4 linked regions of the Homo sapiens genome follow. The protein of the gene in region 1 interacts with the protein of each later gene in a pairwise test. Each region holds a gene or a part of one and is shown on either strand. Other genes may lie near its edges.

Region 1 (7,320 bases):
CAAAAACAAAGCTGTAGGCATCATAGCATCAGTAGGACAGTAACACCCAAGGTGTGGAGTAATCCCAGGATTGAGAAATGTTTCCAGTACAAATGTAGGTCAATTTTAACTTGCCTCTGGCAAATGGCAACCACAGTTGTAGCTCAAAGTGTCCAGTGCAATTCTATCACATCTTGGTCACTCGCTAGCTTGGCAGAATCAACTATTCGCTGCATTTTGAGTAGGGGTTGTGAGTTGTGTTTTTCATTTGTGTTTTGTGTGGGTATCAAGGGTAGCATGGGGGTTAGTATAGGTCCTTGCCACCCAGAGGTGATTTATAGACCATTAGTACCTGTATCAACTCCGAGGATATGAATATGTTACAAATTCAGAATCTTGAGAATCGCCTCAACCCTACCATATTAGAATCTGTATTTAAATAAAATCTCCATATACACCTTAAAGTTGGAGAAGCTTTAAGTTCCTTAGAACTGTTAATTTTAAAGAGAGAGATGATAGCTATGTAGTGGGCAGAGTAGGATCAGTCCCTAATTTCTACTTGAAATATCCTTGTCTCAGATTCTCCATTAATTTAGAGATACCATTTCATCCCTTATGAGTAAAGGCTACAACATCTTTTGTACCCTGAACTCACTTGATCAGCAGCCTTAATTATTTCAACTATGGCCCAGACCTAGGAACTAAAAAAAAAAAAAAAAAAACAAAAAAAAAAACAGGCTGGGCACGGTGGCTCATGCCTGTAATCCCAGCACTTTGGAAGGCCGAGGTGGGAGGATCACCTGAGGTCAGGAGTTCAAGACCAGCCTGACCAACATGAAGAAACCCCATTTCTACTAAAAATACAAAATTAGACAGGCGTGGTGGCGCATACCTGTAATCCCAGCTACTCGGGAGGCAGAAGCAGGAGAATCGCTTGAACCCAGGAGGTGGAGGTCGCAGTGAGCCAAGATCACACCATTGCATTCCAGCCTGGGCAACAAGAGGGAAACTCTGTCTCAAAAAACAAACAAACAAACAAAACACTCCAGGCATGGATGCCTTAATAGCTACATATATATCACAGATTCTGTGTTTTACACATTAGCAAGATCTCAGACCCTTATGATTCCAATAAACTTAGGGCTATGGATCCCTGACCACGAAGGATTGGAAGCAGCAAAGTAGGGCAAAGGGAAAGAAGTAAAATATGGAGTTGGGGTGAAGTTTACAATGAGAATTGATGGTAGAAAGAATAGCTTTGACATTTTCGTAGTTATTTAGATTTATAAATCTGTGCACACGTCAAAAACAGTCACTCAGATCTTAGAGAAATTGTACTTAACCCTGCCTACGTGTTAGCATCACCTACTTTTCTCAAGCCTCAATCTCGGAGATTCTGATGTAATTGGTTTGGAGTGGGATCCAGGCGCAGGTGTTTCATTAAAGCTTCCCAGGTGATTCTTAGTGGTTTAGGCTCAGTCATCATAGGGCCCAAAGGCCTAAACACCTAAGTAGCCTCTAAATAGGCTCTTTCCAGCTTGCTATAATCATTGACAATCAAGGACCCCAGGGTTGGTGAGGATGACCTTGGTTACTAGGATTTTCTTTTAAGAGGAAAACACTCTATATATTAGAGGTGATTTTGGCAGAAAATAAGATAGCCTGGAAGTAAATGATACACAAACACCGATATAAGTCCTGTGTCATAGTTGGAGAAATCTGGAGGGCACTGGTGTGTTGAATCAGACACCCCCTATCTCTCCCTCTTGACCCTCCCTCCATATAGCCCAACATTTACCATGCCCGTGAATCACCTGGGGGTCTTGTTCCAATACAGATTCTGACTCAGTAGTCTTGGGGGAGGCTCCAGATTCTGTCATTCTTACGAGCTCCAGGTGATGCTACTGTAGCTGGTCCAGGGACAACACTTTGAGTCAAGGTCATCCTGATGGCCTTGACTACTCCTCAACCCCTTCTTTGGAACCCAAACAAGAAGAATGGCTCCCATGAATTCCACTGGGGTCCTTGATCTACAGCCACTGTACCAAAAACTGTAGGCATTCCTGAACTAACATCATATATTTTGTCCATCTCTTTTCTTAACTATTCCCTCCTCCCACTAGGCAATGTTATAGGAGGATTGGGGCCTACTGAGTTAGAAACAAGCTTAGAGAGCAGGTATTTTGCCCCATTCATTACAAAACTATGGCACTGAGGCCAAGTTGCAAAGGATTTGTCAAGTTCACAGGTGATCGTGGTAAAGGCAAAACTAGATCTAAATCAGGACATGAACGCATCCATTAAGGATTCTGTCAAAATGATTGCTTCCTGTAGCTTTCTGTGTGAAACATCCATTTGCTTATCCTCAGGGAAATCAGACTAACAAAGACTTGGAAAGGAACATAAAATTCTAAAGCTAGGCTTATGGCCTTTATAACCCTTAGATGGGGCAGATAACATGCCACGGAGGCTCAGAGACAGCTCTGAGACTATGCAATAGCTACTGTTTCCCCTCTTGTGGAATGTTCACTTAAAAAAGCTCAAGGGCTCTATAAGTTGCCCAATGAACTCCACAGACATCCTTAATTCATTTTCATTTATTGGAACCCTCTCTCAAATAATTTTCTAAATCTCACGCAATAATGATGTATATTCTTGCTCAATATTAAGAAGCCCTCATGCAAAACTGAAGAAATAAATTGTTCTTACAAAAGAAGGAAAAAGGAATTATATTCTCAGAACATTCTGCTTACCCAGACACACAGATCTGATTCTTGCTCCATTGTTTGTGGCATTCTGGATCCTAGGGCCATTGATGAGGCTGGGTCAGTGGCCACACTGGCTCCTGGGTACCCCTTCCCTGGCCACAAAAGTCCATCCCAGCAGCACTATTTAAACTGGACTTATTTCTCACTTCACAGCTCTGGCCTGGGCTGAGACCTCCCCAACAGAGCTTATTAGCGAGCTTGTCATCTTGCTCTGTGGCTATCTAGGTCTGGAGTCAAGAGCCATTCACAGGAAAATCAGCATGAAACCTTTAAGTTTGCATATTAAATATTAACACCACTAAGGGCTACAGTGGAAAAGAGGTTTGCTGAGCTCAAGGGCCCTCACTCCACCCCCAACTTCCCTTGGCTTTTCTCTTCTATGTTGTGTTCCTGGTAAATCCCATTATGTCTCGACTACCTTAGGCCCTCTCAGCCCCTTCTTGGGAATTAGGCTCTCTGGATAGGCAAAGAGGCAGATACCCAGCTGCCAGGTGAATCAGATGTCCTCATCAGATCTCTTAATTTCCACTTTGGTGATATTTCAAAGGATCACAAATTATGTTCTTAGTGCCTGGTCAGAGAACTGGGAAAGAGCTGGAAGATGAGACACCAAACTCCATCCCATGGTGATGTTTGAACCAGGCTGGAGCTGGTTTCACATGTTTTTCATTGTGCATGACTTTCTTAATTGCCTTAGTGGGAATGCGTTACTGCAAAATAAAGTGAAATTGTTTTCCTTATTGCTTGTAATTTACAGAGGGGTGGTTTTGATCATATAAACCAGGCACTTTTCAAATCCATTGATCTTAGGGTGGAAGGAGGGATTTCTTTTTAAGTATTCATTTCGAACTATGCTTTCACTAGTAAACTCAAAGCCCAAGGGCAAAAACCCATGATTCTCCATTTTGTAATAGCTATTAGATGTCCACAGCACATCAGACCTGTGGAAAACGCATGCTTTGTGTATGGAAGAGGGAGAGGGAGCGTCAGGAGTTGTCCTTTGCCAAAAAACGTACTCTGACACTCAAAGGCACAGGCTGGTGGAGATCCAGGGAACCCGGGAAAGCCCAGGCCTAACTCAGGCCCGCGCGGGTCTCTTCTGATCCCATAAGATGAGGAGTGGGTCCTGGCTCTGGGCATCCTGGTGTCGACTGTGAGTTCCCAGCAGAGGCCCAGAGTCCCGGTCCGGCAGCCGAGGGAAGCGGGGGGGTCTTCCAGAAGAAGAAAGGGCCAAGGTCACCCCGGTGCCTCTCCAGCAGCAGCAGAGGGCGGCGGTCGGTGTCGCTGCTGGCCGGGGCCTCGAGGAAGGCGCGGGCCAGCTGGGGCCGGGTCTGCGTTCCCAGGAGCTGCCACCGTTCCAGGGAGCAAGTCAGGCCGGGACGTAGCGCCTGCGCGGGACCCTCACTTGCCACCAAGACCCCCACAAACCCCGCCCCATCCTGCCTTACGCCCCGCCCCAAGGTCGTTCTCCCGACCCGGGGTCCCGCCCCAAGGCCGTCCTCCCGCCCCGCCGCTTGGTGGCGGCCGCATGCTGCCCGGATATAAAGGGTCGGCCCCACATCCCAGGGACCAGCGAGCGGCCTTGAGAGGCTCTGGCTCTTGCTTCTTAGGCGGCCCGAGGACGCCATGGCCGAGTGCCCGACACTCGGGGAGGCAGTCACCGACCACCCGGACCGCCTGTGGGCCTGGGAGAAGTTCGTGTATTTGGACGAGAAGCAGCACGCCTGGCTGCCCTTAACCATCGAGGTACAGCCAGCTTTGGAGCGGATGGCGAGGCAGCAGGGGCAGCCCCTGGGAGCTTGGGATGCCCTAGGAAGGGCGAGGACTCAAGGAGCACTCACTATGGGGCAGGGAGGATCCCCACAGATGAAGCCACTTTGAGCCGGGCTCTGGAGGATGAATAGGAGTTCTCCAGGCAGGGAAGAAGGGTGGGAAAACCGCAAAGGAATGTCGGTCAAAGGGGTGGACCCAGTGCCTGTGGAGTGTGACTATAATGTTGACTACAGCAGGCATTTTCTGGGCTTCGGGGTCCTAATCCTTAAAAATGGGTATCTCTAAGTGACTCATCCATATGGCCGATTATCGGAATCATCTCAGGTGGGTCCCAGAAATCTGTATTTTTAAAAAGAACCCTCAACAGTTTAGGGTCAACCAGGCATAGCAAACACTGGCCTAGAGTGTGAAGTATTTTCCACTACCTCTGGGCTTTATTTAGAAAACAAATTTAACAAGTGATGTCGTAGTATAAGCGCCGGTATTGAATCAATATTGACTTTTTTAATGTGTGATGCCTTAAGATGGGTCCTTAATCCATGTTAAGTTTTTGTTAAAGAAATAGATAAGTCTTTTACAAGTATTTGGATTTACTCAATGAAAAAGAGTCAAAAAATGTTCAAACTCTCTCCAAACATACACTGAAGAAAGCATAAAAATTAAAAAATATATTAGAACACGTATGTCCAGTAGCAATCAAAAATTATTGAGTGTTGACTGTGTCTCTACAGATGGGAAACTGAGGCACAAAAATGTACATTTGTCCGAGGTAAGATTGCTAGTAGGTAATGGGGTTGGAATTCTAGGCTCTTAACCACCACAAAATCTGCATTTTTATTGGCATTTCAATTTTTTAAATATGTTTTTACTTTAAAAATCAAGTTAAATACTTACTTTTTTAAAATCAAAATTTGAAGAAATAATTTGAAGATTCAGTGGATTTCTTTTTTTAAATCTCTGAGAAATCTCTTCTTCAACGTGACACCAAAACCACGAACCAGACAGTTTTTCATAAAATCATGATACATGCTCCACAAAAAATAACCCACTAGCAAACTGTGGGACAGATTTTGCCTCACATCATTGAAAAGGCCAGTATTCTTTTTCTCTCTTTCTTTCTTTGTTGTTTTTTTTTTTTCCTGTAGATACAGGGTCTCGCTCTGTGACCCAGGCTGGTCTTAAACTCCTGGCCTCAAGCGATCCTCCTGCCTCTGCCTTCCAAAGCACTGGAATTACAAGTGTGAGCCGCTGCAACCCGCCAGAAAAAAGTGTGCCTTTCATGGCCCTGTCTGGGTGGCTAGACACGTGTGTGTGCTGGTGGTCCTGGCCCAGCCAGAGTCCCTGAGAGGAGCATGCATGGCCTAAGGAAGTGAGCTTCAGGGAACAGTGATGACCATCATTTCACACTCGGACCCCTGCCCAGATGGGTGGATGGCTGGCAGGAGGGATTCCGGTTTTCTGCGCCTGGAGAAGCCCTGGCAAGCGGAACCTGAAAGTATGCCCTGTCCTTTTCTTCTCCTCAGATAAAGGATAGGTTACAGTTACGGGTGCTCTTGCGTCGGGAAGACGTCGTCCTGGGGAGGCCTATGACCCCCACCCAGATAGGCCCAAGCCTGCTGCCTATCATGTGGCAGCTCTACCCTGATGGACGATACCGATCCTCAGACTCCAGTTTCTGGCGCTTAGTGTACCACATCAAGGTGAGTGTCTTTCTCCCAGAGGTCCATCGGGTGATCTTGGGTTTGCCCTCCTCCATGTCTGGCCTTAGTGGTTTATCTTCCCTCCATCCCAGTCCCAAAAGCATTAAAAAATGGGGGAAATGTACAAGTGCAGATTTCTAAAGGACTTTACCAGAGAGAAGATAGATCCTCTGAGGTCTCTAACAGAACCCTACCTCCACTTCCTCCCAGCCACCAGCTAGCCGCAGGAAGACATCTCTGGTGGGCAGTCACAGGCTGAAGGCTGGTGGGAGGAGGGGCAGTCTCCAAGAGCCCCTGAAATCCTCACACCTGGGTTCCTACCTGCTGTTTCCAGCTAGGGGAAGGCGCAGGAGTGAGGAATGGAGGGAGTGGAGGGCTCTGGCCGATCAATGCCTTCTCTCTCTCTCTGCCTCTCAGATTGACGGCGTGGAGGACATGCTTCTCGAGCTGCTGCCAGATGACTGATGTATGGTGAGCTCCACTGGAGCCTGACCCCTCTTAGTCCACAGTGGCTGTATCAGAAAGAAAGACCACCCCTTCTCCATGAAGGCAGTGCTAACCCCTCCCCGACTGCTGCCATCTGAGGGTCCCTAGGGATGGGAGAGGCTTCCTGGAGGCACTCATGTCTCCCTTACCACTTCGGGAGCCAAGGGCTTTGTAGGCAGCCCCCTTTATCGCAGCTGCTCATATCTATAAAGTACTTCACAAGTTTCAGCTGGCACTTTCATTTACCATTGCTTTTTTTTTTTTTTGAGATGAGTCTGGCTCTGTGGCCCAGGCTAGAGTGTAGTGGTGCAATCTCAGCTCACTGCAAGCTCTGCCTCCCGGGTTCACACCATTCTCCTGCCTCAGCCCTCGGAGTAGCTGGGACTACAGGCGCCCGCCACCACACCTGGCTAATTTTTTTTTTTTTTTTTTTTTTTTAGTAGAGACGGGGTTTCACCGTGTTAGCCAGGATGGTCTCGATCTCCTGACCTCATGATCTGCCCGCCTCGGCCTCCCAAAGTGCTGGGATTACAGGCATGAGCCACCACGTCCGGCCTTACCATTGCTTTATTAAATAAGCACTGGTGCTTGATTATATCAGCTGAGCCAGATAT
Region 2 (6,427 bases), on another chromosome or scaffold:
CATGTAATTCTCTTGCTTAGAAACCTACAATGATGCTTTACTGTTTACAGAGACAAGTTCAAAACTCTGCAGTTTGAGATTTAGGCGCTTGACGGCCTGGCCCTAACCTACCTTTTGCATTTCAGTTTCAAGCTGCCTTTCAAGTTAACTTTTATCTCCAGCCAAACTGATCTACCTTCCTGTAAGCTGTTTTATACTTTTCCTCTAAACCTTTTCTCATGTAATTCTTCCTGATCGTAATAGCCCTCTTCTCTTTCAGTATTTCAAGAAAAGATTATTCTTTATTACATACAAATGTATGTGTTCGCCTGTGTATACATACATACATACTCTTATTTATGCTGTTTATTGTTTTTCAAGGTCTAACTTGTGTCCCATTTTTTTATGAAGTCTTCCTAGACCACTTTGGTCTAGAGCAGTGTTATTCAAACTTTTTTTTTTTTAATTTATTTTTTTGAGACAGGGTCTCACTCTGTCTCAAAAAAATTTATTATTTTTTTTTGAGATGGAGTCTCGCTCTGTCGCCCAGGTTGGAGTGCAGTGGCGCAATCTCAGCTCACTGCAACCTCCGCCTCCCAGGTTGAAGCGATTCTCCTGCCTCAGCATCGTGAGTAGCTGGGATTACAGGCACGTGCCACTCCGTTCGGCTAACTTTTGTATTTTTAGTAGAGATGGGGTTTCACCATGTTGGCCAGGCTGGTCTCGATCTCCTGACCTTGTGAGCCACCTGCCTCGGTCTCCCAAAGTGCTGGATTACAGGCATGAGCCACCGCGCCCAGCCTGTATAATTAATTAACAAAATAATTATTAATTATAATAATTTATAAAATAAAATTATTTATTTTATTTCTGGGAGACAAGGATTCAAGTTGCCCTGAATATATGCCCCCAAGAGCTTATTTTCTGTTCACAGTTCCTATTGGCAGTAATCTTGTGTTGCTTTAGTACATTTCCTATACTGTTGTCCTAAAATACATTTTGTTACTGAATTTCTTGTCTCTTTAACTACACTCTTAGCTGGGTATAGGAGCATTTCTAGATACTTCCAGTAGTGAAAACACTGGATTGAGAAAAGTGGTTTCTGTAGCATGGCTCATCTATTGCACTATAGGTGATGCTGTTGCACACAGTTCTCTCAAATGACAAAAAATGGACTTTCTCATTTCTTACAAAATTTTGTTTAGGCCTTGGGCCTTAAAAGGACACAACTGTTTATTGGTTAACTGTTAATTTGGATTTTTTCATCGCTGAATAGTATTGATAAACTACATTAAATCTTTAGTATATGGTTCAATGGACATAATCAGCTGTGTTGCCATTTGGGTATATTGATTTTCTGTATTTAAACTTTCATTCCTACCACTACAGGCAGTGCAGTGGCATCTGTAGCTGTAGATCCCAGTGGTCGTCTCTTAGCCACAGGTCAAGAAGATTCTAGCTGCATGTTGTATGACATAAGAGGAGGAAGAATGGTACAAAGTTATCATCCTCATTCCAGTGATGTTCGCTCTGTTCGATTCTCCCCTGGAGCTCACTACTTGCTAACAGGCTCTTATGATATGAAAATAAAGGTGACAGACCTACAAGGTGATTGAGATCGACTTCTCTGTTTTTAGTCTTTCCTGTTCTATTTGGGACCTTTATTTTTTTGTTAATGTGATGTGGTTGATTATATAATACTTTCAATTATTTTATAGTATTTATTGAGCAGATTCTGAGACTATATTAAGATATATAATAGCAAATTATTAAATAAGCAGTGAATAGTCTTATTGTTAGGTTTTGTTTTTGTTTTTATAGAGGCAGGGGCTCACTATGTTGCCCAGGCTGGTCTCGAACTCCTGGGCTCAAGTGATCCATCCGCCTTCGTCTCCCAAAGTGCTGGGATTACAGGCGTGAGCCACCACGCCCAGCCTGTTTTTGTTTTTGAGACAGGGTCTCGCTCTGTCGCCCAGGCTGGAGTGCAGTGGTGTGATCTTAGCTCACTGTATCCTCTTATCTCCCCTGCTCAAGTGATCCTCCCACCTCAGCCCTGCAAGTAGCTAGGACTACAGGTGCATGCCACCTCACCTGGCTAATATTTGTATCTTCTGTAGAGACAAAATTTTGCCATGTTGCGCAGGCTGGTCTCAAACTTCTGAGCTCAAGCGATCTGCCTGCATTGGCCTCCCAGAGTGCTGGGATTATAGGCGTGAGCCATCATGCCCAACCTTATTGTTAGTTTTTGATTTTTTTTTTTTGAGGCAGGGTCTCACTCTTTCACCCAGGCTGGAGTGCAGTGGCACGATTATTGCTCACTACACCCTTGACCTCCTGGGTTCAAGCCATCCTTCTGCCTCAGCCTCCGAATAGCTGGAACTACATCTGTGCACCACCATGGATGGCACATTTTAAAAATTTTTTTGTAAAGATGGGATCTTGCCATGTTGCCCAGGCTGGTTTTGAATTCCAGGCCTCAAGTGATCCTCCTGCCTCCGCTTAAGATATTTTTTAAAATCAACATTTATTTATAGTGACTCATTCTGAGATAAATGATGGATTTGTGTACTGTTATTAGCTTCTACATTAAAAAATCATTAGCATACAATCTTTGTAATTAGGTCTTAGTATCTAGTTTTAGTTTTAAACATTCATCAAGCAAATATTTATTGTATATCAATTAGGGACTGACAGATGAGAATAAGACAGTTAATTCCCTCCCTGATGGAGCTTATATTTTAGAGGTCAATAAAAAGTAAACCAATAAACAATGTAATTTTAGGTATTTGTGCTGTTTAAAAAATTAGTATGGTAGGGAGATAGTGACTAGGGTGAATAGGGGAAGGCTATTTATTTATTTATTTTGAGACAGAGTCTTGTTCTGTTGCCCAGGCTGGAGTGCAGTGGTGCATCTTGGCTCACTGCAGGGGGAAGGCTATTTTAAATAGGATAATTGGAGTAGGTCTCTCCAAGGAAATGCCATTTGCATAGAGACCAGAATGATGAGGAGGAACAAGCCAGGCCAGGATATTAGGAGAAGAGCACAGCAAGTATAAAGATGCTGAAGTAGGAACCAGCTTAGCACGTTCATGACACTACAGGAAGCCAATGTGCCTGGAACTTAGTGAACTAAGAGAGAGAGACACAGAAGAATAAATCAGAGGCAGGGTTTTATAGACTTTTTTTTTTTTTTTTTCTGAGACAGAGTCTCGCTCTGTCGCCCAGGCTGGAGCGCAGTGGTGCAATGTCGGCTCACTGCAAGCTCCACCTCCCAGTTCATGCCATTCTCCTGCCTCAGCCTCCCAAGTAGCTGGAACTACAGGCGCCCGCCACCACACCTGGCTAATTTTTTGTATTTTTAGTAGAGACAGAGTTTCACCATGTTAGCCTTGATCTTGATGGTCTTGATCTCCTGACCTCGTGATCTGCCTGCCTTGGCCTCCCAAAGTGCTGGGATTACAGGCGTGAGCCACCGCGCCCGGCCTATAGACATTTTTTTTAAGGGCTTTATTTTTAATAGCAGTTATAGGTTAACAGCAAAATTGAGAGATACGGAGATTTCCCATATACTCCTGACTCACACATGCATAGCCTGCCTCCCCCATTATCAGTATCCCCTTCCACAGTGGTACATTTATTATAGTTGGTGGGCTATAAGCATTTTAAAAAGTATAATGTGAAGCCTTTGGAAGATTTTAACTGGAAGGGATAGGAGCTGAATTATATTTTTGGAGAATTTGGGGTTCTGTAGGGAGAGTAGATTGTAAGGGGGCAAGAGTAGAAATATAAATGTCAGTGAGGAGGCTGTTGGAATAGTTCAGGTGAGATGATGGTGGCTTGGACTAGGGTGGTGGAGGTGGAGGTAGTAAGAAATGACTAAATTTGAGATATATTTTGTTTGGATCAGCTTTGAGGAGTGAGGGGAAAAGGAATCAATGACGATTCCTAGGTTTTTGTCATGAGCAACCAGATGGTGCCATTGAGATAAGGGAGGCAGGTAAGGGGAGGAACAGGTTTAGGCAAGAAAACCAAGAGTTTGGTTTTAGACAAGTTTAAATTAGGATGACTATCAGACAAGTGAGATATTGAATGACTATTTGGATACTAGTCTGGAGCTCAGATGAGAACCAAGATTGGAGATAAAATATGTATGAATTGTAAATATATAAATGGCCATGTTGCTAGATGAAATTTTTTAGGAAGTTAGGTACAGAGAGAACAGAAGAAATCTGAGGGTTGACTCCTGGGATTCACCAAGCTTTACGTCAAGAAGAAAAGGGAAACTAGCAAAAGATGAAGTGGCACTGAAATCAGGGAGAAATCAAGTTGAGAGAATTTCCGAGAGAGAGAGAGAGGCAACTTGTCAAATGTTGCTGTATGGGTATATGTTAGCAAATACTAATAGCATAATTAGGTAGGTAGTAATTTATCCCTGTATAAACCTTTCAATGTATTATATTAATGTAGTTTAAGATTTTTTATACTGTAATGTCTTAAAGTAACAGGAAGTCTATACAATCTATACATATACTTATTTTGCATTGTAAATCAACATCTCTTTTGTAATTTAGGGGACCTCACCAAGCAGCTTCCTATCATGGTGGTGGGGGAGCACAAGGACAAAGTGATTCAGTGCAGATGGCACACCCAGGATCTTTCCTTCCTGTCATCCTCTGCAGATAGAACTGTCACCCTCTGGACTTACAATGGGTAGAGCACACCGCATGTCAGTCTATGCAGCAAAAGCACAGAGACTTAAGACTACTGAGTTGTGAAAATTACAAATCTGAAGAACATAGTGTCCAGGAAAGTGGTTTAGCACGAAGAGGCCCCTTATTACCATGTATCCCACTGATAGGAGGTGTTGGGTGGTGTTATTCCGCAGTGCTTTCAGTCTTCCATGTGAGCTCGTGCTGCTGTGACCTGCTATATGTAGTCTCGTTGCCAAAGTCTGCAGAAGAGCTCTTCAGTTGTTGGTGTGCACTCCAAGTCAGGATGGACAATGTGTTTACGGTTTAGTATTCAATGCATTCCTTGGTCTTTGCCTAAATAACAGTTTTATATGCACATTGAAATGGAATTATACTTCAACTATATTATTAAATGTAATGCAACCAAGTTCCTCCCAGATTAAACTTCCCAGGTGTTCAGAATTACTTTTGCTCTTCTCACGATCCCATATTGTATTATCACTTGTCTTCTAGAGGTCAGAATTCCATAATATATGTCACTCAAAAGTTACATGGTTGCTTTCACTTAAGGATCATTGTGGAGTTTAAAGATGAATGAAAAACTGCTTCTTAGTTTACTACATGGTATAGGCCCTTTTTTCTTAAACCCAGGGATATGATTATTTTGTCATATAATTTTGTTTCAGGCTAAAAGGTAAATGTGTTTGCTTCAGAAACTTGTTAACTTCAGTTTTTTGAATGCAACAGGATACCTCCCTTCCAAACTGAACTGTAGAAGCAGAGCAGCAGCAGTTATGTGATGCAACACTTGATGGTACAGTAAATTTACTGGCATTTTTCTCCTTAAAAATTAAAATCCTTGACATAGACCATAGCATGGCTTGAAATGCTATGTCTGCATGATAATTTAAAATGGAAGATTTAAACTTTGCACTCCAAAAGCTTATTTGGATTTTTTTCTTGCACTGTTTTGTGTAATGCAGAATAATGATTTTATTTCTACAGCTTTGTAGATTCTAACATTTATGTATCTTTATTTTCATATTGTACAGTAATTTTACTTTAAATTATTTAAATAGGCTATTTTATTTATTTCAAATGCAGTTGTATTAGTTCTCATTATTGAACTGTCTGTGCACTGTATGTAGCAAGCATTTTTCATCTGTTGTATACAAGTGGAAAGGGTATTAGAAGTGTAACTGTGCTATTATTTCAATAAAGACCTCTTGACATTTAAAACTGTTTCTGTTCCTCAGTCTTTGGCTTTCAAAATAATGTTATTTTTTCAGTTTACTGGGAGAAAGTGAGGTCCAGTGGATGAAGTCCATAATCAGTTTCTTAGATTTCTTTCTAAAGTTCTTCTACTAATTTGCTTTTTAATCCTTGGCAACTGTATAACTTATTAACAAAAAAATAATTTTTCTAAAAATGGGGTCTTGCTTTGTCCAGGTTGGTCTTGAACTCTTGGCCTCAAGTGATTCTCCTGAGTCAACCTCCTGAAGTGTTGGGATTATGGGCGTGAGCCATTGTGCCTGGCCTGTATAACTTTTGTGTGTCTTCTGTCTCTTTTATCCAAGATTTAGAGAACTTTCTATCCTTAATATGTTGTGAAAGTTGACTAATAAAAGCCTAACAATATGTATAAATTTGAACTCAAGAGTATGAATATGTCGAATTAGGTAATCACCCAACAGGTTCACCATGCCCTCTGCCTAGATAGAGCCAATTTATTCAAGACAAGGGAATTGCAATAGAGA
Region 3 (7,038 bases), on another chromosome or scaffold:
GCTTGCTTCTAACCTAAATATAGATACTAATATTGCACCACCAACTAATTCCAGAGGACCTGTTAAAATGAATCTGGAAAACCTAGATCACCTCTAGTCCTTTGAATTAGATGGATGGGGAAGGACCGTCTAAGTAAATTGTGAAATTCTAACTATAAGCAAAAAAATGTGTATGTATCCTGTGAGTCAGATTGGCATCACATTCTAAAATATGGGTTTTGTTTATTTCAGAATGTTCTCATTGTTGAGGTAAGCTGGCATTTCCTTTTCCATACTTGGAGGTTGAAAGAATCTAATGGTGAGTTTTAAACGGTAAACCTTGTTATCAAATTGACCAAGGATTTCTTGAGCTCCCACTGGGTGCATGCTCTCCAAATTTAATGAATAGGGGCCAGATAGCGTCCCTGATTTCAAATAATGTAGAATAAAAGCTTTGCAACAGTATTTGTGGGCGACTTTATCCTTTTTGTGTATCCAGTTCCACATATCTCTGTGTTGATTCTTATACTTCTTTGTGAATCAGACAACTTTAAAGAAGAGGAAACTAGCTCACTGAACCAAATTCATTTCACAGTAAAACCAAGGTTAGAACTCTGTTTACCCTGAATTCAGTGTCTTTGCTAAGGACCTCTGATGATTTCAAGAATTCTCAAATACTTTCAGCATCAAAATCATAAACACAATCAATTAAAAATGACGAGCTATGGGGAAAGCTATGTTTTTTTGTTTTTCGTTTTTCGTTTTTTTTAACTTTTGTTTTTCTGTTAAAAAAAAGAGAGAAAAGAGAACGTGGGATCCCTATGGCAGTAGTGGACTAATACAGCAAATGGCCACGTTTCCTTCAGGAGCACGCTTGTCTCATCAAACAGCAAAAAATTCAGGGGAGCTGTTTTCAACCTTTTGTTACACAATTGCCTGTGTGCGCCATGTGCATCTGGAGTTCTTGCTCAGTATAACCCATGGAGTAGACCCTCTAACCAAATGAATTGCCCAACCCTGGCTACATTCAGACCTGTTGTTTTGATAATCAGCTCATGACAGCTGATTCCTGTCCTTAGGACAATAAATCGCCGCTGCCCATTCTCCTCTAATTGTGCAGCAGCTCATCAGCAGAGATGAGCCCGAGCTCACTGCAGCCGTGGACCCTCAGAATTCACAGGCTGTCACCAGCTGCTGTCCAGACACCTCTCACTTCCCAGCCATAGAATCCCCCATTGAGTGGGGGAGGACAAGGGGGAGGTTTTTATCCATTCAGTGTATTCAGATGTACATATCCATGAAAATTCATGTGCCTTGTATTGTGTTACATAAACTCAGGGCCAAATTTAGTCCTTGAATGTGCAGACACAAGTCCAAGTGTACTCAACGAGGAGTCCTACATGCTGTCCAAAGACTAAATTTGGCCCTTCAACACAGCTAAAGGATTCAAGGAGGAAAGAGTCTCCAGTAGATTCCCCAAAACTCAGCTTCCAGAAAGAAGCGCCTGTCTAAATAAAACATAACCAACTCTTCCTCCTACTGTGGCTCCAAATTGGATGGCATTTTTAATTACGATGCATTATTAATCAGGAGTATCTCCCTGGGTGAAAAGTCTATTGTGCTGCTCAAATGCATTTTGTTGAATTTATCTGTCCTTTTTGCAAAGGATGTTGTCGGAACTGGGAGGACCATGAAAGCACTACTCAGCAATATAGAGAAATACAAGCCCAACATGATTAAGGTAGCCAGGTGAGTTGGACATTCATAGCATGGTGATTTCTAGTTTTCCAAGCAAGCCCAAAAGGGATGCTAACACAGGATGCTCTTTCCAAAGAGTGTAATATATTCCAAACTAGTGACCTTTTCCCCTGGGGTATTACAGCTTGACCACACTGAAAAACAGCCCTTGACTGCTAGCCTGAGAGAAGTAAGGGAAGAAGACGTGCTTTGCCGTGTTTCTGAGTTCCTCTTTACTGTGCCTCCATTAGCTGTTTCCAGGAGCAGCTGGATGAGCCCCCGTGCAATTGCTCCGCTCCCTTCATTTTTTTTGTTCTTTGTTTGTTTGTTTTGAGACAGAGTCTTGCTCTGTTGCCCAGGCTGGGCTGGAGTGCAGTAGCACAATCTCGGCTCACTGCAACCTCCACCCCCTGGGTTCAAACAATTCTGATGCCTCAGCTTCCCGAGTAGCTGGGACTACAGGCGCCTGCCACTGCACCCAGCTAATTTTTTGTATTTTTAGCAGAGATGGGGTTTCACCATGTTGGCCAGGCTGGTCTGGAACTCCTGACCTCAAGTGATCTGCCTGCCTCAGCCTCCCAAAGTGCTAGGATTACAGGCACGAGCCACTGCACCCGGCCCTTTTTTTTTTTCTTTTTTATTCTTTAATATGAGACAGGGTCTTGCTCTGTCGCCCAGCCCAAGCTGGAGGGCAGTAGTGTGATCATAACTCACTGCAGCCTCAAACTTCTGGGCTCAAGTGATCCTCCCACCTCAGCCTCCTGAGTAGCTAGGACAGCTACCTTTTTTTTTTTTTTTTTTTTTTTTTTTTGAGACGGAGTCTTGCTCTGTCACCCAGGCTGGAGTGCAGTGGTACAATCTCAGCTCACTGCAACTTCACCCTCCCGGGTTCGAGCAATTCTCTTGCTTCAGACTCCCATGTAGCTGAGACTGCAGACACGTACCACCATGCCCAGCCAATTTTTGTATTTTTAGTAAAGATGGGTTTTCACCATGTTGGCCAGGCTGGTCTCAAACTTATGAGCTCAAGTGATTTGGCCTCCCAAAGTGCTGGAATTACAAGCATGAGCTACTGTGCCTGGCTGACAGCTACCTTTTTAAAAAGTTTTTTTATATTTTATCTGCTTTTTGAGACAGGGTCTCTTTCTGTCACCTAGGCTGGAGTGCAATAGTGCAATCAAGGCTCACTGCAGCCTTCAACTCCTGGGCTACAACAATCCTCCCACCTCAGCCTCCCAAGTAGCTGGGACTACAGGCAGGTGCCACCACACCCAGCTAAATTTTTTAATTTTTTGTAGAGACAGGGGTCTCGCTATGTTGCCCAGACTGGTCTTGAACTCTGGGCTCAAGTGATCCTCCCACCTTGTCCTCCCAAAGCACTGGGATTACAGATGTAAGCACTGTGCCTGACCTGCTGTCTTCTTTTTATCCAGAACCATCTATATAGTGCCACAGTAGCAAAATATGTATTTCAAGTACATCTTTTAATGATGCTTGATTCTATTTACAATTCATAGAGATTTGATTGGGTTCACTAAAGCATGTCTTTTTTAATGGTAGTTTGTTGGTGAAGAGAACATCCAGAAGTGACGGCTTTAGACCTGACTGTAAGTGTTTTTCAGTTTTTTGTTTGTTTGTTTGTTTGTTTTGTGCTTATGGTGTTTCATTTTATGTTTAAGAATCTTTGGTTTCCTATTTGACAGCATTGCATGTGGATTTGAAACTGTGTAGGGCTGATAGTCCCACGGATTCCTCATGATCTCCCCCACCTTGATAGGGAAAACAGAACCCTTCAAAATGAGGGTCTTCAATGTTCTAATTTGCATCTTTCACAGGAACTCTGTTCCGTGCATTGGGTATTTTTATTTGTATGTTTCACACAGCACCTTAACTACAGAGAAGTCAGCTGAAAAGTTTCAGGGAGTAGAGGAAGACCTGATCCCGCTGGACTGACTCAGACACATAGGATCCCCGCCTTGGCCTCTATTCTCACCAGTCAGACAAGGAGAGGTGCTATGGAGGTTTAGAGGGATTCTTATGCCATCATCCGGAACTATTACCAGACAACGCACAATGGTGACCTTTAGCAAGCCTGAATTGTAACGCACAGAAGGGGAAATCTAAGACAGCTCCCCTTCACCTCCAAACCAAAGCTCCGTAACACAGAGAATTAGCAGAGCAGGTATCTCTAGATACCATCTTCACACTTGACTTCAGATGTGTGTTCTCTAGGGCTTCCTCATCTAGGACACTCTCCTCCCTTCTCCCCATAATAAGCCTAGTTCTAACACCAAGAAGGATAAACACGCAGCCTAATTATTTATTATTCTAACACTAGAGGCGATTTTTTTTCACTTGCATAGGCAGACTTCAGCTTGATTTTTATAACTTACATTTGCTCCAAAGCTCCTGGGATAATTTGGCTACAGTTCTCTTCAGCAAGCTGAACAAACATTAGCGAAAGAGAAGTGCAGTATGGATGGGTGACATGCCAGCGACATTTAGCCAGTGACTCTACATTCTGAAAACAAGTTTCATGCCTGTGCTGGATGTGTTAACTCTGGACCATGTCAGTTCTGGGCAGAGAGACCCAATCGCATGTTCTCATCTATTACTATTATCAAAGGTATAATCTGGATGTAGTCAAGGTTGCATGCGGTTACTAAGCAGAAATTGTCTAAGGAAATAGTACAGGATACTCAGTGTATAAATAAGATTTTAACTGAAGTTGAAAAACATTCACTTCAATGACAAATTTCTTATATCACTTATAATAACAGCAATAAAATAATAGCAGCTAACACTAGGAAGAGGTCGTGATGTGCCATGCACTATTCTAAGAGCTATACAGAGATTAGCTCATTTCATCCACACAATAGCTCTCTAAAGGTAGGAGCTGTTGTTGTACCTATTTTACAGATGAGGAAATTGAGCACAGCAAGCTTAAATAGCTTGCCAAAGTCATGTAGCCATGAGTGTCAGGCCAATATTAAGCCCAGGCAATCTGGTTTCAGTCACTGCCCTGACTCTTCCACTACATCTGCAAGTAACATCTGCTATTGCAAATGTAAGTGTAGGAGCTGCCTGCATTTACCAGCTAAGGATAGGTCACTCTGATTCATGATTGTCCTGCTGATCCATCATCCTTTTATTCTATGACATCTCAAGTTTTGGCCTTCTAAATAGGCTTTGGGCTCTCATTTTCCCAGTGTGAGTTGCCCTGCCTAATGGAAGGATTGCATTGCTCCCTATAAAGTCATTATTATAACCCTGGTTACAAACAGGGTTTCTTGGGATTTGCTCATATTATTATTATTATTATTTGAGACGGAATCTGACTCTGTCGCCCAGTGCAGTGGCGTGATCTTGGCTCACTGCAACTTCTGCCTCCCAGGTTCAAGTGATTCTCCTGCCTCAGCCTCCCAAGTAGCTGGGACTACAGGTACCACCACACCTGGCTAATTTTTGTATTTTTAGTAGAGATGGGGTTTCACCATGTTGGCCAGGCTGGTCTTGGACTCCTGACCTCAGGTGATCCACCCACCTAAGCCTCTCAAAGTGCTGGGATTACAGGCGTGAGCCACTGCACCTTACCTTTTTTTTTTCTTTTTGAGATGGGATCTCACTTTGTTGCCTAGGCTGGTCTCAAACTCCTGGCCTCGAATGATCTTCCTGCCTCAGCCTCTTGAATAGCTGGGACTGCAGGTGCGCACCCGGCTTCATATTCTTTTAGCTAGCTCAGAATCTCTGTTCCTTCTTTCTCTCTGGATTTATGAGGCTTTGTACTTTGCGTTCCTTTCTCCTGATTGATTCTTTCTTTTCTCCTCAATGTAACTTCTGACCTCTTCTGCTCTTGCTTCTCCTCTCTTACTCTTTTTTTCAAGAAACTCTGCAGTTTGGAGGAATCAAGCAGGCTTCCTAGCAAGGGACTCCATAATGCAACCCCCTAGAAAATAAGTCCCTCACCTCTAGTACTTATTTTCCTAGCAAGGGACTCCATAATGTAACCCCCTAGAAAATAAGTACCTCCAGTACTTTCTATGAGCATGAACCAGTCGTTTTCTTCTTGTGAAAGCATCGTTGGTCATAGTCACTGTGGAGATGACTTTGCCCAGGCTATAAGCCCACTGGCTGTACCCAAGTACACTTCCATTAAAAGTAAGCAAATAAATCTCTCATCTATAATACTGTAATAAACAAACCTGTAAGATTCCAAAACACTGAAACAAGTTTGAAAATCACTGGACCAGTGCACCTTTATTCTGTTTCAAGACTTCTGAAGAAGGAGAGCTATTGTCTGTTCCTTAAGAATTCTCTCCAATAAGTATTAGCCAGGCGTAGTTTTGCATGCCTGTAGTCCCAGCTACTCAGGAGGCTGAGGTGAGAGGATCTCCTGAGCCTGTGGAGGTAGAGGCTGCCGTGAGCCATGATCACACGCCTGGACAACAGAGTGAGATCCTTTCTCAAAAAATAGCCAGGTTCAGTGGCCCATGCCTGTAATCCCAGCACTTTGGGAGACTGAGGCGGATGGATCACTTGAGGTCAAGAGTTCGAGACTGGCCTGGCCAACATGGTGAAACCCCATCTCTACTAAAACTACAAAAATTAGCCTGGCATGGTGGCACACGTCTGTCTTCCCAGCTACTCGGGAAACTGAGGCAGGAGAATGGCTTGAACCCTGGTGGTGGAGGCTGCAGTAAGCCAAGATCGCGAGACTCGGTCTCAGAAAAAAAAAAAGAATCCTTTCTGACAAAAAATCATCATCTTTTCAATGAATCTTCTTTTGCTTTTCATAAGTACCTTGCACTGTGCTTAAATCCATTTCCTCTCATTCTGCCCTCAGTAGGGAGCTCATTAATATCCTCTGCATCATGAACCCAAAGACCAGCATTAATGCAACCTCCACATTCTCTTCCTCAAGTTGAACAATCCCGTTGCCTTTCATCTTGTGTCCTGGCTTTTGCTTTCCAGCCCTTTAAACAGCCAAGACACTGAGTACAGCGGGAGAATTGCTTTCTAGTTGCTGTGGCCCGCGCACCTGTTCACATAATGCAGCGTCGTAACGCCTTCTGCTTGAACTTTCCTTTGTGTTGTTGAGAGTGTTTCCTTTGGCATCGTATCACTGCATACTGCTTGCTTTAGAACACCAGGGCCACGTGACTCAATTATGCATATTTCTTGTTATGCACCAGGCTTCCTGAGCCCTTTCTCAACTCTGTATGCTAGATCAGTCATTCTTCATTGTAGGTTGGCTTGTTTGCCTTGCCTCCTTCCTCCCGAGTAGTCCTTCGGGTCCAGGTCCCTCTTGGGCTCATCGTGTGC
Region 4 (3,613 bases), on another chromosome or scaffold:
CAAATGTTGCTGTCTGATTGTTCCTCTGAAAGTTTTGTCTCAGAGGAGTACCCAGCCGTGTGATGTGTCAGTCTGCCCCTACTGGGGGGTGCCTCCCAGTTAGGCTACTCAGGGGTCAGGGACCCACTTGAGGAGGCAGTCTGTCCATTCTCAGATCTCAAGCTGCGTGCTGGGAGAACCATTACTCTCTTCAAGCTGTCAGACAGGGACATTTAAGTCTGCAGAGGTTTCTGCTGCCTTTTGTTTGGTTATGCCTGCCCCCAGAGGTGGAGTCTACAGAGGCAGGCAGGCCTCCTTGAGCTGCGGTGGGCTCCACCCAGTTCGAGCTTCCTGGCCACTTTGTTTACCTACTCAATCCTCAGCAATGGTGGGCGCCCCTCCACCAGCCTCACTGCCACCTCGCAGTTTGATCTCAGACTGCTGTGCTAGCAATGAGCAAGGCTCCGTGGGCGTAGGACCTTATGAGCCAGGCATGGGATACAATCTTCTGGTGTGCCGTTTGCTAAGACTGTTGGAAAATGCAGTATTAGGGTGGGAGTGACCTGATTTTCCAGGTGCCATCTGTCACCCCTTTCCTTGGCTAGGAAAGGGAATTCCCTGACCCCTTGCACTTCCCGGATGATGTGATGCCTCGCCCTGCTTCGGCTCATGCTCAGTGCACTGCACCCACTGTACTGCACCCACTGTCTGACAATCCCCAGTGAGATGAACACGATACCTCAGTTGGAAATGCAGAAATCATACGTCTTCTGCATCGCTCACGCTGGGAGCTGTAGACTGGAGCTGTTCCTATTCGGCTGTCTTGGCTCCACCCCTGAGCATTTTGCATTCTAAGGACCTTTGCACAGGCTTCTATTCATTCTTTAGTGGAAGTTTGTGTGTTTGTTTCAAGAAGCTACTTTTTAGAGCAGTTTTAGGTTTACAGAAAAATTGAGCAGAAAGTACAGAGAGTTCCCATATACTACCCCACCCCACCCTACCCCACCACTAGTTTCCTTTATTATTAGTATCTTGCATTGGGATGGCACATTAGTTGCAATTGATGAGCCAATGTGGATGCATTCTTATTAACTAAAGTCCATAGTTTACATGAGGGTTCTCTCTTTGTGTTGTACATTCTGTGGGTTTTGCCTAATATGTCATGTCATGTATCCACCATTATAGTGTCATACAGAATAGTTTCACTGCTCTAAAAGTGCCCTCTATCCCACCTATTCATCCCTCCCTTCCCCTCCAAATCCCTAGAAACCACTAATCTTTTTTCTCTCTCTATAGTTTTGCCTTTTCCAGAGTGTCATATAATTGGAATCGGTAGTAGGTATTTAATAAAGACTTGCTTAGTGAATGAATAACTGATTGCCATTAGAACCATTCATATGAGCTCTGGTGAGGCTGAAGAGAAGGATATAGATGGGTGAGACAGAGAGGAGGCAGGACTGACAGGGTGTGAGTGGCCATGAGTGATGCAAAAGTAGCTCAGGTTGCTCCCTTTCATCATAGTCCAGGTGCCCTGGAGAAGAGACCAAATAAATAGACATTGGCATGATGTCCTGCAACAGCTTCTTCTTATGCAGGTCATGCAGGAAGAATTGCATGCACAAGCCCTTATCCTAGAGTCACTGAACACAAACCTCTACTATACCCAGTTGGAACTCCAGAAAGAGGTGAGTCCCTACTGGAGTGGGGATGGGGGTTGGGGGAAGAACCCAGGTCTCCATCCAGCTCTGCCATATAGCTCTGCCCTGGATGGCTCTGGGTTGGGGAAGATGGCTATTAAAATGTATGTCTTTCAGAAAGCTATAGTGGGAAATCTGGAGAAAATGCTTCAAACCAAGTTTGCTGAAACTGAAGAAAAGTATAAGCACACCATACAGATCCTGACGGAAGAGAACATTCATCTGAAGTGCGGCTGCTGCTGAAAAAGACATAGCTGAGTTCTCTTTAGGAGTGGGAAGGAGTTTGAGTGAGGAATGGGTTAGGAAGATAGACCAACTGCTCCCTAGTTATGTCAAGGCACAGGTGTTTTCGGGAGGGAGGTATGTCACTCTAGGCCAGTGACACAAAGCCAGATAGTTCACTTGAGGTGGAGTGGAGATGTGTCTATACTTCTCCCATTCACCTGTGTCCTTGTTTCTATGCAAAACAACACAGGACATTTGTCTTCCAGTTTCTGAGTTTGCTCAGTTCTATGACTGAGGGTGGTTTTTAAATCCATCTCCCCTGGGAGTCTGATGGTCTTGCCATTACATGCAGCTGCTTCTGGTTCCTATGGAAATCACCTTTGGATCAGAAGGTGTACTGTTACCTGAAGCTGCATCTTAAATCATTAAAATAAATTTTGGTCAATACTTTAATAGAAGAAAGTTATTTATTGCATTGATTTAGTAGAAAATTCCTCGTATAGGACTTTAGTCACCTGAACACCATACCTCACTAAATTCAAAACCACTGCAAGTAATGAGTGAGAGACTGCTGTGGTGAAGGAACGAAGGCACATTTCTCTCCCTGCACTCCAAATATCCTATACCCTTTCTAGCTTTTGAGTTGACATTGATACATCTTTCCTTTCTTTTTACAGGCAAAAGATAATTTCTAAGAATGAAGAAATTTGTGAAGGATGTTCTGGGAGATTGGCCTCTATTACTGTTTCTAAGGATGATTCTGACACTGTGCAAGATGGTAGCAAGAAAGGACAAGAATCATAAACAAAAAGTTGCTCTGCATTGTTGAAGATGGTTGGCACACCATTTCTGTAGGCCCAGGAAACTCCTGGGAGGGTTTTCTTGAGAAAATGCATATAATGAGTTTAGTTCTTGGGTTGCTCTGACTCTCTGAATGTCTGAAAATGTTTGAATTCGCATCTGAATTTCACAGCTTATCACGGACTCTTCACTGAAAAATGATGCTCTCCATACTGGGAGCTGAGCTTTCTCTGAGTTTTGTACTATTTTTCTTCTACCTTGACGTATTTCGTTAGAAAGAAACTGATTTGAAGGCCTTCTTCATATTGAACTTTTACTATATTTGGGAGGTGTACCTTTGTCCCCTGGGGCATTTAGGTAGCAAAAAAAGATGATGTGTTGATTTTACTCTAAAATATTTTTCTCTCACACCCATGCCCCCTACTTCCCTACCTCTCAATCATGTTCCCTAACCTATGACTTAGGAAGGGTTTCTGATGATTCTTACCACCTCCTCTGGACCATCACCAGAATTCAGACACCCACAGTGCAGGCAACATAAATAAGTGAAGTGGGCTAGACATAAGGAAAACAATTGCCCAAGCACAGTGATAAGTGGCAACCAACAGCAGCCTCAGTAGAGGGGCTTGGGCAGGGCTGGGGCACAGCGGATGGGGAAGAGTGACCCACAGAGCACTGTCCCATCTGAAGAAGGTGCTTCTCAGACCTTTGCCATGCAAAAGCATGAGGTCAATATTGTCAGATAGTATGATTTTTTAAAAGAAGTTATTCTGGTTTTTATGTGATATCTCCTAATTTTTAAACATTGACAACAAATTTTAAAAATACAACTGTGTGTGCCGATCATGGGAGACTCAAGTAGAACATGTCTGTAGTCCAGATGTTTTCCACCTGTGAGATGTCATTGGCAG

What was found.
Region 2: the proteins of TCL1A (region 1) and WDR47 interact in binary tests that used the Homo sapiens proteins (3 or more experiments, as listed by UniProt).
Region 3: the proteins of TCL1A (region 1) and PRTFDC1 interact in binary tests that used the Homo sapiens proteins (3 or more experiments, as listed by UniProt).
Region 4: the proteins of TCL1A (region 1) and FLACC1 interact in binary tests that used the Homo sapiens proteins (3 or more experiments, as listed by UniProt).

Annotation. Positions count from the first base shown.
Region 1 is NC_000014.9:95,711,120-95,718,439, reverse strand, and holds the start of TCL1A (T-cell leukemia/lymphoma protein 1A), read left to right. Parts: upstream 1-4,314; 5' UTR 4,315-4,373; coding exon 4,374-4,493; intron 4,494-5,665; exon of another isoform or gene 5,666-5,889; intron 5,890-6,043; coding exon 6,044-6,220; intron 6,221-6,637; coding exon 6,638-6,685; 3' UTR 6,686-6,691; intron 6,692-7,320. UniProt on the Homo sapiens protein: Enhances the phosphorylation and activation of AKT1, AKT2 and AKT3. Promotes nuclear translocation of AKT1. Enhances cell proliferation, stabilizes mitochondrial membrane potential and promotes cell survival.
Region 2 is NC_000001.11:108,969,696-108,976,122, reverse strand, and holds the end of WDR47 (WD repeat-containing protein 47), read left to right. Parts: intron 1-1,368; coding exon 1,369-1,587; intron 1,588-4,550; coding exon 4,551-4,693; 3' UTR 4,694-5,909; downstream 5,910-6,427.
Region 3 is NC_000010.11:24,851,603-24,858,640, reverse strand, and holds part of PRTFDC1 (phosphoribosyltransferase domain-containing protein 1), read left to right. Parts: intron 1-231; coding exon 232-249; intron 250-1,645; coding exon 1,646-1,728; intron 1,729-3,276; coding exon 3,277-3,323; intron 3,324-7,038. UniProt on the Homo sapiens protein: Has low, barely detectable phosphoribosyltransferase activity (in vitro). Binds GMP, IMP and alpha-D-5-phosphoribosyl 1-pyrophosphate (PRPP). Is not expected to contribute to purine metabolism or GMP salvage.
Region 4 is NC_000002.12:201,287,747-201,291,359, reverse strand, and holds the end of FLACC1 (flagellum-associated coiled-coil domain-containing protein 1), read left to right. Parts: intron 1-1,500; coding exon of another isoform or gene 1,501-1,574; coding exon 1,575-1,664; intron 1,665-1,793; coding exon 1,794-1,903; coding exon of another isoform or gene 1,904-1,919; exon of another isoform or gene 1,920-1,963; intron 1,964-2,578; coding exon 2,579-2,705; 3' UTR 2,706-3,089; downstream 3,090-3,613.